Linked DNA regions of Homo sapiens: region 1 is linked to region 2. Evidence: fine-mapped expression QTL. Tissue or cell type: non-classical monocytes. Region 2 holds a variant in brackets; the other region holds the start of a gene. All regions are shown on one strand. Distances are from middle to middle.

Region 1 (4,782 bases), 170 kb after region 2:
TGTCGGCCTGGGAGTGACGCGGGACTTCCTGCCCAGCGCAACCCGGCCTGGCCCCCGAGGGTGGGGGACAGGGCGACGCCCGCGGGGACCACGCTCTGGGGCGTGCGGGGCGCAATTCACGGGGCTGGGCTGCCCCAGGGGCTGGGAGGAAGGAGGCAGGGGGGCGCCCAAGTCTCCTACCCATGGCAGCGCATCAGGGCGCGTCCCAGAGCCGGGGGTGGACGGAGGCTTGGAGGCGGAGGCTTTGGGGACCCCCAAGCCTGGGCTAGAGCAGCCTCGGCGGGCTCTAGAGGGAGGGTGGAGGGAGGGGCCCGGGCTGCAGGAGGCGGGGAGGCCTGAGCCACGGTGGTGGGGCCGCTGGGCAGGAGAGAGGGGCTGCCTGACCCTGCCGTGTGAAGGTGAGGTTGTCTTCGGGCTTGGGGGGATCGGAGGGGGCGGTTCAGGTGGAGGTGGTGGCGGGGGGCTGGGAAACCGGCAGGAGGGGCTCTATGTAGAGCTGGGGGTGGGGGTGCTGAACCACGTACAGAAGGGGGCTGAGACACCGGGGCCCTGGGCCCCGGAAATTAGAAATGGAGAAATGGAAGGCTGGGTGCTGGCGTTTCGGAAATGCATGCTCGTGGTGTTCCTCTTTATGTAAGGGAAGCTTCTGGGCCTTTTCCCTGCCTGTCGAACGTTCTGTATGTTTTTGCGGGATGTGTGAGGTGTGCTGTCTTGCTCCACTTTGAGGCACCGCCCCCACTGCGGGAGTGCTGGGGACCTGCCCCATGGGGCATCCTCGGGGCCAGCCCTGTGGCCACAGGCATCTGGGCCCTCGCTGCCCCTGGCCGGGACACACTGCCGGTCCTGTGCAGTGGCTCAAAGCCCCTCTACCGGGGGTGACCCGGTCTCTCCGGAGATGAAGTGCAGCGGGGGTCTAGGCCGGCTTCCTGGCCCCCCACCCCTCCTGGCTTTACCCCCGAGGCCACGTCCAAAGCCCCCAGCGCCCCACCCCCGCCAGCCTCCCCCTTGAGGGCCCAGTGACCTAACTGGGCCGGCAGGGTCCGAGGAAGACCAGGGTCAGCGGCGGCACGGTCCGTTCCGCGACCCCTCTCCTGTGACCCCAGGTAGGCCGCCGATCGGTTCCCGGCTGAGGTCCCGCCCCAGCGCCCGCCTCCCGGGCTCCAACCTCTTTGCTCAGCCCGGGAGGCTCGGCTGGCTGGGGCGGGCGTAACCGTGGGGCGAGGCCCGCCGGTCTTTCTGATTTCCGCGGGCGGCGTGGGCGCTGAGGCAGCCGCGGTCAGGACCTGGCCGGGAGTCGGGGCTGCTCCGTGGACCCCGCGTCTGCGCCGAAACCCCGCATGGCTTCGGGGGCCGGACCTGCGCCTCCGCCTAACTCCGGCCGCCGGAGACGCCGTGCGGACCCCAAGCCAGTGCGCGGAAGACACCGTCCTACCCTCGGCATGGCTGCCTCCCACCCGGTCACGTCGGTCCCCGCGCCCCACGCCGACGCGCAGGCGACCCGGGGACGCGGAGACGCAGACAGCTCGGGACTCAGGTTCGTGGGAGCAGCGGCCGCGCGTGGCTATGACCGTCCCGGGGGCCCGTGCTCAGGGCGTCCCCGTGAGGTTTGGGCGCCACAGTCACCGGCGGCTCTGCCCGCGCCCTGGCCACAGTGGGGACAGCCTGGCTTGGCGGGGACGCACCAGTCCCGCCGCCGACGCGGAGTTCCTACCCCGCCGTGCGAGGCAGTGGCTCCGGCCCTTCCAGCTCGGGATGGAGTCAGGGAGCCGCCCGCGCCCGAATGCAGAGGCTCCTGCGATGGCCCCGGAGTGAGTCCCCCAGAGGAGCCGGATTAGGGCTGGAGGCGGCCGAGTCCCCCGAGAGGCCCCTCCCGACATTCCCGCCCCCGCGCGCCGCTCCCCGGGTCCTCCGCGTCTCTTTCCCGGGAAAGCCTCCCTCGGTTCCTGCGCGGCCGCACAGCCTGGACGCAGCGCACGCGGGCACCGGCCTGACTCTCCCACCCCGAAGCCTGCTCCCAACCTAAGTCCGCCCTGACTCTCCCAGCCTGAAGCCTGCTCGCCCTCGGGTGTCCGGGCTGGGCACAGGCGCCAGCGTCCCCCTGGAGAGGAGAGGTCGCCCGGCACCTCCCAGGACAGGCCCAAGTGGGAGTGGGACCCTCCTACCTTCCTGCAGCCTCGGCCCGCGGGGTGGGGGGTTGGGAGAGATGAAAGGAGGTGACCGATCCCGAACCATCGCCTCTCCATTAACCAGGGCCCGCAGCCCCGCCCCTCCCCCAGACATCGAGGAGCCGGGGAGGTGTGAACGGCCTCCTTTGTGCCTCTGAATCGAAGGCAATTAGGCGCTGCTTATCTGGGCATTAGCCGTGTATGCAAACCGGGCTCCCGCCCCCTCCTCCTGGGCTTATAAACGCCGCCGCCTGGCGAGGCCCGAGGTGGATCCTGCGCCTGGCCAGCCCCGCCTGGCCTTCCCTCCGGCCCACCTGGCCGCCATGCGCCTCTCCTCCTCCCCACCTCGTGGCCCGCAGCAGCTCTCCAGCTTTGGCTCCGTGGACTGGCTCTCCCAGAGCAGCTGCTCAGGGCCGACCCACACCCCCAGGCCTGCCGACTTCTCCCTGGGGAGCCTCCCTGGCCCAGGCCAGACATCCGGCGCCCGGGAGCCCCCTCAGGCCGTCAGCATCAAGGAGGCCGCCGGGTCCTCAAATCTGCCTGCGCCGGAGAGGACCATGGCCGGTAGGTCCGGGTGGGGGGGGTCCCTTCCTTCCCAGGTGGAGATGGGAGTGGGGGAGAGGCCAGGAGCCCGGCGGCTGCACTCCCCGCGGTGCCCTGCCCACTAGGTCAGGGCCGGGGGCGTTTCCATGAGGGCCGGCGGAGGCCTTGCCGGCGCCCTCACTGGAGCGCAGCTTCCCTCGGAACCAAAGCCTTGACGGGGATTTCCTCTCCTTGAGCCCCCGGTGGGCTCCTCTGCCTCCTTTTGTCACCCCGTTCCTCAGCTGTGTCTTCGTCCCCCACCCCGGCCTGGTGCCGAGGGACCGTCCAAGGGGTCCCCGTCCGCACCTCCCTGCCCTGATTCCGGGCGCTCACTGAAAGTCTCGATGATTTGCCAAGCCCCCCGCCCCCGCCCCCCAGCACAGCCGGTGCCTGCTCAGCGTCTAGGCTCAAGCCCATTCCGGGTCACCTGGAGCACAGCTGTCTTTAAAGAGCCTGCAGGTTCGCTGCAGGGGTGGCGGTGACCCCGATGCCTGCAGAAACTCTGAAGTTCCCTCTGTGGCCGCCCAGATGCTCTGTTGTCTGCTGAGAACAAAGGTTCTCTGCGTTTGTGTTTTAGTCTTTGTGACATCATCACCACTTTTAGGTTTAAGGTAGTACTTGGTCAAAAGTGGGGTTGACATCATCTACAAGTTTTCATTTTTAAAAATTTGACTGATCCTTATGGAGTGACTTTGTACTTAAGGGAAATGAAAATTTAAATGTATTCTCCCCAGCTAGCTATCCTGCCCCACCCCAAAAAAGCCAGCCATCCCTGTCCCGCAACCCCCTTTCTGATGCCAGTCCTACAGCCCTCCCTGCCAGAAGGCATTTGCTTTTTGGGTCTACCATGTGCTTTCAGGCTAACGTTAAGACAGATTTTGTAAAATACGCTTCCTTCCGCAGAAACTCCAGCGAGCATTTTGGTCAGACTTGCATTTAATGTCGAGCTCGATTGGCCACGTTGGCCTTTCCTGGGACCCAGACCCAGCTCCACAGACCACCTCGTGGGGCCGTTTGGTGCCAGCCCCCATTCCTTAACTTAGAAATTAGGAAACAGACTTGACCACAGTGGGCCTGGGGATTAACTGAGTTGGCCTCCGCTGGCTGAGGAGACGGAGCCCGGGACAGGGATGGGTGCCCCTGGGTGGGTCGCCAGGCCTTTGCATATAATGGATTCTTACCTTACCGGCCTGGAAGGCTGTGGGAAGGGCATCCTGGGAACCGGCTTCTGGAAGGGAAGTGTGGGATGGGGCGGAACTGAGTGGACTGAGCGGAGGGCAGGCCCAAGCTGCTGTTAACATTCCCTCCCCTCTTGAGCCCCCTCTCTGAGCCCCCTTTCCGCATGTGACCTGGGAGGCGGCGGGGGTGCTGCTGGTCACTGTCAGGTGAGAAGATCTGCCCTGCCCAGCCCCCAGCATGGCTGTCTTCACCTGTTACCCGTGGGCACGAGCTTGCCCCATGGGGTGGCATGTTGAGCCAAATGCCCTTACCCTCTATGTCAGGGTTGAGTAAGGAGCCAAATACCTTGCGGGCCCCCCGTGTCCGCACAGCCTTCACCATGGAGCAGGTCCGCACCTTGGAGGGCGTCTTCCAGCACCACCAGTACCTGAGCCCTCTGGAGCGGAAGAGGCTGGCCAGGGAGATGCAGCTCTCAGAGGTCCAGGTGAGGTGGGCCGGGCAGGCTGGGGTGGGCAGGGGTGGGCAAGGGTGGGCTGGTGGCCTAGTCTCACCCCTGTTCTGATCTTGCTTTTCCTACAGATAAAAACCTGGTTTCAGAATCGCCGCATGAAACACAAACGGCAAATGCAGGACCCCCAGCTGCACAGCCCCTTCTCGGGGTCTCTCCATGCGCCCCCAGCTTTCTACTCAACGTCTTCTGGCCTTGCCAATGGCCTGCAGCTGCTGTGCCCTTGGGCACCCCTGTCCGGGCCCCAGGCTCTGATGCTGCCCCCTGGCTCCTTCTGGGGTCTCTGCCAAGTGGCACAAGAGGCCCTGGCATCTGCGGGAGCTTCCTGCTGCGGGCAGCCTCTGGCGT
Region 2 (5,845 bases):
AAGGCGGCACACCAGCTGGGCGAACACACACACCCACTCGAGAAGGCGACGTTCCGCTGGGCGAACACACACACCCACTCGAGAAGGCGGCACTCCAGCTGGGCGAACACACACACCCACTCGAGAAGGCGACGTTCCGCTGGGCAAACACACACATCCACTCGAGAAGGCGACGTTCCGCTGGGCGAACACACACACCCACTCGAGAAGGCGGCGTTCTGCTGGGCGAACACACACACACACTCGAGAAGGCGGCACTCCAGCTGGGCGAACACACACACCCACTCGAGAAGGCGGCGTTCTGCTGGGCGAACACACACACACACTCGAGAAGGTGGCACTCCAGCTGGGCGAACACACACACCCACTCGAGAAGGCGGCGTTCTGCTGGGCGAACACGCACACACACTCGAGAAGGCGGCGTTCTGCTGGACGAACACACACACACACTCGAGAAGGTGGCACACCAGCTGGGCGAACACACACACCCACTTGAGAAGGCGACGTTCCGCTGGGTGAACACACACACCCACTCAAGAAGGCGATGTTCCACTGGGCGAACACACACACACTGGAGAAGGTGGCACTCCAGCTGGGCGAACACACACACACACTCGAGAAGGCGGCGTTCTGCTGGGTGAACACACACACCCACTCTAGAAGGTGGCGTTCCGCTGGGTGAACACACACATCCACTCGAGAAGGCGGCGTTCTGCTGGGTGAACACACACACCCACTCTAGAAGGTGGCGTTCCGCTGGGTGAACACACACATGCGCTCGAGAAGGTGGCGTTCCGCTGGGTGAACACACACACGCACTTGAGAAGGTGGCATTCCGCTGTGTGCAGGGTCCAGCGTGTGTCAAGTAGGTCAAGATGGTAGGTCAAGCTGCTTAGTGTCTAGGTTCTTAGTGATTTTCTTTCTGTTGTTACATTGTGTACCCAGCCCCACTTGCCTTTTCAACCTGTCTCCTGCCAATCTGTACCCTGACTCCCAGGCTTCAGGGACCCTCCCCTCCTCGGGCTGGCCACTCCTCTGCTCTTCCCCCTCCCAGCTGCAGCTCTGTATGTTTCCCCTGTCCACAGGGAGAGGGTCCTTGTAAAAGGGTGGGTGGGCAGGTGGGTAGATGGGAAATGGAGACATATGGGTGGGTGGGGGATGGATAGATGGGTGGGTGGGTGGGTGGGTGGATGTATGGATGGATGGATGATGGATGGATGGAGGGTGGATGAATGGATGGATGGATGGATGGATGGATGGTGGATGGATGGTGGATGGATGGTGGATGGGTGGAGGGGTAGGTGGGGGATGGATGGAGGATGGATGGATGAGTGGGTGGATGGGTGGATGGATGGATGGTGGATGGATGGTGGATGGGTGGGTGGATTGTGGATGGGTGGATGGATTGATGATGGATGGATAGATGGAGGGTGGATGGGTGGATGGGTGGATGGATGAGTTGGTGGATGGGTGGATGGATGGTGAATGGGTGGAGGGGTAGGTGGGGGATGGATGGAGGATGGATGGATGAGTGAGTGGATGGGTGGGTGGATGGGTGGATGGAGGGATGGATAGATGGTGGATGGATGGAGGGTGGACGGGTGGATGGATGAGAGGGTGGATGGATGGATGGATGGATGGGTGGATGGATGGATGGATGGATGGATGAGTGGGTGGATGAGTGGGTGGATGGGTGGGTGGATGGATGGATGGATGGATGAGTGGGTGGATGAGTGGGTGGATGGGTGGGTGGATGGATGGATGGATGGATGAGTGGGTGGATGAGTGGGTGGATGGGGGAGGGTGGATGGGTGGATAGATGGTGGATGGATGGAGGGTGGATGGGTGGATGGATGAGTGGGTGGATGGGTGGATGGTGGATGGGTGGAGGGTGGATGGGTGGATGAATGAGTGGGTGGATGGGTGGAGGGTGGAGGGGAGGAGGGGTGGAGGGGTAGGTGGGGAATGGATGGATGGATGGATGTTGGATGAATGAGTGGGTGGATGGGTGGATGGATGGATGGTGGATGGGGGAGGGTGGATGGGTGGATGGATGGGTGGGTGGATGGGGGAGGATGGATGGATGGATGGTTGGTGGATGGATGGATGGATGTTGGATGAATGAGTGGGTGGATGGGTGGATGGTGGATGGTGGATGGTGGATGGGTGGATGGATGGGTGGATGGGTGGATGGTGGATGGGGGAGGGTGGATGGGTGGATGGTTGGTGGATGGATGGATGGATGTTGGATGAATGAGTGGGTGGATGGGTGGATGGGTGGATGGTGGATGGTGGATGGTGGATGGGTGGATGGATGGGTGGATGGGTGGATGGTGGATGGGGGAGGGTGGATGGGTGGATGGTTGGTGGATGGATGGATGGATGTTGGATGAATGAGTGGGTGGATGGGTGGATGGGTGGATGGTGGATGGTGGATGGGTGGAGGGTGGATGGGTGGAGAGGTGGAGGGGTGGAGGGGTGGAGGGGTAGGTGGGGGATGGATGGATGAGTGGGTGGATGGGTGGATGGGTGGATGGTGGATGGTGGATGGGTGGAGGGTGGATGGGTGGAGAGGTGGAGGGGTGGAGGGGTGGAGGGGTAGGTGGGGGATGGATGGATGAGTGGGTGGATGGGTGGGTGCAGGGATAGGTGGGTGGTGGTTGGCAGGCATGGACAAGAAGAGGAAGAACGAACAAACAGATGGCTGGAGAATGGACAGGGCAACAGAGGGAAAGGAACACAGGATGGTTTCACCTTCAAAAAAAGAGGAAGGCTGGTTCCAAGGAGCAGCGGTC[C/T]AGCCTTAAGCATTTATTTTTCCCCGGAATTCATTATGCCTGTGAATACTGACACACGGGGCGGACATTTACGGATCCACATCATAAAGAAGTTGTTCTATAGAAATTCCAAAACTGGATGAAATATTAGGAACAAAATCATGTTTTAAGCTCCCCGCAAAGAAACATTAGCTGATAAGTAACAAAGAAGCAGAGGAGCTGGAGGAGGGTTTTCCGTTCCCTCCTCCTGGATCAGAGCTCAGGCCGGACTCTAGAGGGGGGGACTCCGCGGCAGCAGCTGGGCTCAGAAGACCGCACTGTGCAGGCGCAGACGCTGGGTTCAGACGCCAGAGCAGCTCGCTTCATGGAAACCACTGAGAAAGGGAGGAGAAAACTGTGAGAACAAATGTTTTCTCAGTAACTTTCTCTTAAATGAGGTTAAGTATCATAAATATACAAATTAGGTTAACAAAACAAATGTGTTTGGGACTTCCTCAACTACTTTGTGAAAATTATTCTGGTTTTATGTAAAGAAATGAAAGGTTTAGTGCTGTTTCTAAAAATGGCCATTACTGAATAAGGATGCAAAAGGCAGTGACAGAACAGTCCCGAAATGCCTGCGGTTCCCAGAGCCTGCAGGAGCCGGTCAGCGTGGGTGTGTGTGAAAGACAGACACACACAGACAGGCAGACGCATGGACACATGGGCACGCGGATACACAGCGGGAGGCTTTGCCCCACACTTCAGGGTGCTGTGGCCTGGTGCGGGCCAGGGGGTGGGGACTGGGCCGCTTCTCCCCGTCCTAGCTTGGGATGTGCTGCAGTGGGACCACCTGGGAGATGCTGGACCTTCCTCCTGGGACAGTGAAGAGCAGAGCTGTGAGCCCCTGCCTGCCTGCCCCACCCCCATCCCCAGCACTGTGCTGGCCACAGCAGCAGACACGTGTCATGTGTGCTAGAAAGCCTGCTCCCGGAGCCCCCTGCTCCCACCCCCAGCCGCCTTCACTCATCAAGTGCTGGCCATGACCCTGGGCCAGGCTCGCTCAGGGACAGATGGTTGGGTGGAGGGAGGCAGCGGCATCAAGCCATTGGGGCAGAGGCCAGGGGCACCCTGGTCTCCTGCACAGCCTGGCAGGTGGACACTGGACCTTCTTGGCCTTCACAAAATGGCTCCACTTGGCCCCACGACGCTGGCTGCACCTCACACCTTGGCTGGCTGTGGGTTTGCTCTGCAATGGGAGGGCTGTGCGGCTTCTTAGCCCATTGGCTGAAAGCTGGGAGAGGTTCCAGAATGTTCTGCACCAAGGGGCAGGGCACCTGTACCTGGGCAAGTATCCAGTCCAAGCATCCATGGTCACACAGACGAGAGGCCCCGCCCTCCCCTGGCCACAGCATGGCGCAGCAGAAGCCCTGAGAACTCGGCTGAGAGTGAGCCGGCGCTGGGGTGCACGAAGGGGTCTCTTTGCTCCGTGGGTTGTCAGCTCTCTGTGTCCTGGGAACAGCCACCCAGGGGTCTGCCCCACATCACCCGAAGGTGGCTGGCAAGTGCTGACCCTGTTCAGATCACGCTGGTGTGAGGTCCCCGTTGGCTGCCACCAGGACTGGCCCTGAGATGAGGGTTGGCCCCGCCATCTGCCCGGGCTCCCGGCACACCCGGTGCTCTGGGCAGCTCCAGTGCTCAGAGAAGCCTCCCCCTGGGTGTGTGGGGGCCAAATCCCGGCCTGTGGCCCCAACTGTGCAGCTGAGCCTGGGCCCTGAGTCCCAAATCTGCCATTTCCCTGAGTTCTCTGCAGCCCCTGGGGCTGTCATCACTTTATTCTTTTAATTAACTCTGCAATTACAGCCTCCTGTCTCTCATGCAGAAGCAGATTCGGGCTCTGTGGGGAGACAGGAGAGAGCTCCTCTCTGTGGATGCCGCCTCTCAAACAGCACCTGCGGCCGGCGTGGCTGGGTTTTAATTATTGCAAAACCCTTTGGTGGCTTTTCATCTGTTTCAGACCAAAACCAATAAACACATTCACTTATGTCTTGAGTGAGGCCGGCCCCAAGGGCTCCGTGTGGTCATGGCGCACAAGGACCTTTGGAGAAACCTCATCGTGCCCTTCGCTGGCCCAACCCCCGCGGATCGGCCGCCCCGGGCCTGGTTCCAGCTCCTGCCAGCTGCTGTGGGAGGCCTCAGACCCTGGGACCCACAGCTGGGAAGCTGGCGGGGAGGCCGAGGGGCCGTCAGCAGGTCTCAGGCAGGCCTCTGGGGTGCTCACACCAACCCTGTCCCATGAGTGACCTCAATGGAGCGAAGGAAGGGGTGGGAAGGCGGCCGACGTTTTTCTAGAAGCACTGGGAGATGTACTTGGCGTTCTGTTGTGTTTACAGAGGATGTCCATGTTTTCCTGGAGCAGTGTGAGGAACCTCGCCCGCCTCTGCCCAGGGCAGGCGTGGGAGGGCAGGGGGCCGTAGTGTGCAGAGCCAGGGGGCCCTGGGGTGCAGAGTCAAGGGGCCGTAGGGTGCAGAGTCAGGGGGCCGTAGGGTGCAGAGTCGGGGGCGTAGGGTGCAGAGTTAGGGGGCTGTAAGGTGCAGAGTCAGGGGGCCATAGGGTGCAGAGTCAGGGGGCATAGGGTGCAGAGTCAGGGGCCCTGGGGTGCAGAGTCGGGGGCGCAGGGTGCAGAGTCAGGGGGCATAGGGTGAAGAGTCAGGGGGCCCTGGGGTGCAGAGTCGGGGGCGCAGGGTGCAGAGTCAGGGGGCCATACTGCAGAGTCAGGGACCGTAGGGTGCAGAGACTGGGGGCCATAGGGTGCAGAGTCAGGGGGCCCGGGGGTGCAGAGTCAGGGGGCGTAGGGTGCAGAGTCAGGGGGCCCTGGGGTGCAGTCAGGGGGCATAGGGTGCAGAGTCAGGGGGCCACAGGGTGCAGAGTCAGGGGGCCCTGGGGTGCAGAGTCAGGGGGCCATGGGGTACAGAGTCGGGGGGACCTGGGTTGCAGAGTCGGGGGGCCCTGGGTTGCAGAGTCAGGGGGCAGAGGTGAAGCCACGCCCTGGGATGTTTGACCTCCCTGTGCCGAGGAGGTCTCCCCGCAGC

What was found. PIP is the estimated chance that this variant, and not a neighbour inherited with it, causes the effect.
Region 1: it holds the start of VENTX, and the variant in region 2 is fine-mapped to the expression of VENTX in non-classical monocytes (Schmiedel 2018, PIP 0.95).

The regions. Positions count from the first base shown.
Region 1 is chr10:133,235,427-133,240,208 of GRCh38, forward strand. VENTX (VENT homeobox) reads left to right here and starts at 2,429. Exons shown (of 3, transcript NM_014468.4): 1 at 2,429-2,729; 2 at 4,250-4,410; 3 at 4,506-4,782. The coding sequence starts at 2,489. RefSeq lists enhancers at 1-194, 1,404-2,007, 2,008-2,612, 2,613-3,216.
Region 2 is chr10:133,064,239-133,070,083 of GRCh38, forward strand. No RefSeq gene overlaps it. Among named protein-coding and RNA genes, the nearest start is that of ADGRA1-AS1, 20 kb to the right of the region's middle. RefSeq lists an enhancer at 1-24. The variant C/T (reference allele first, on the strand shown) is at 2,796.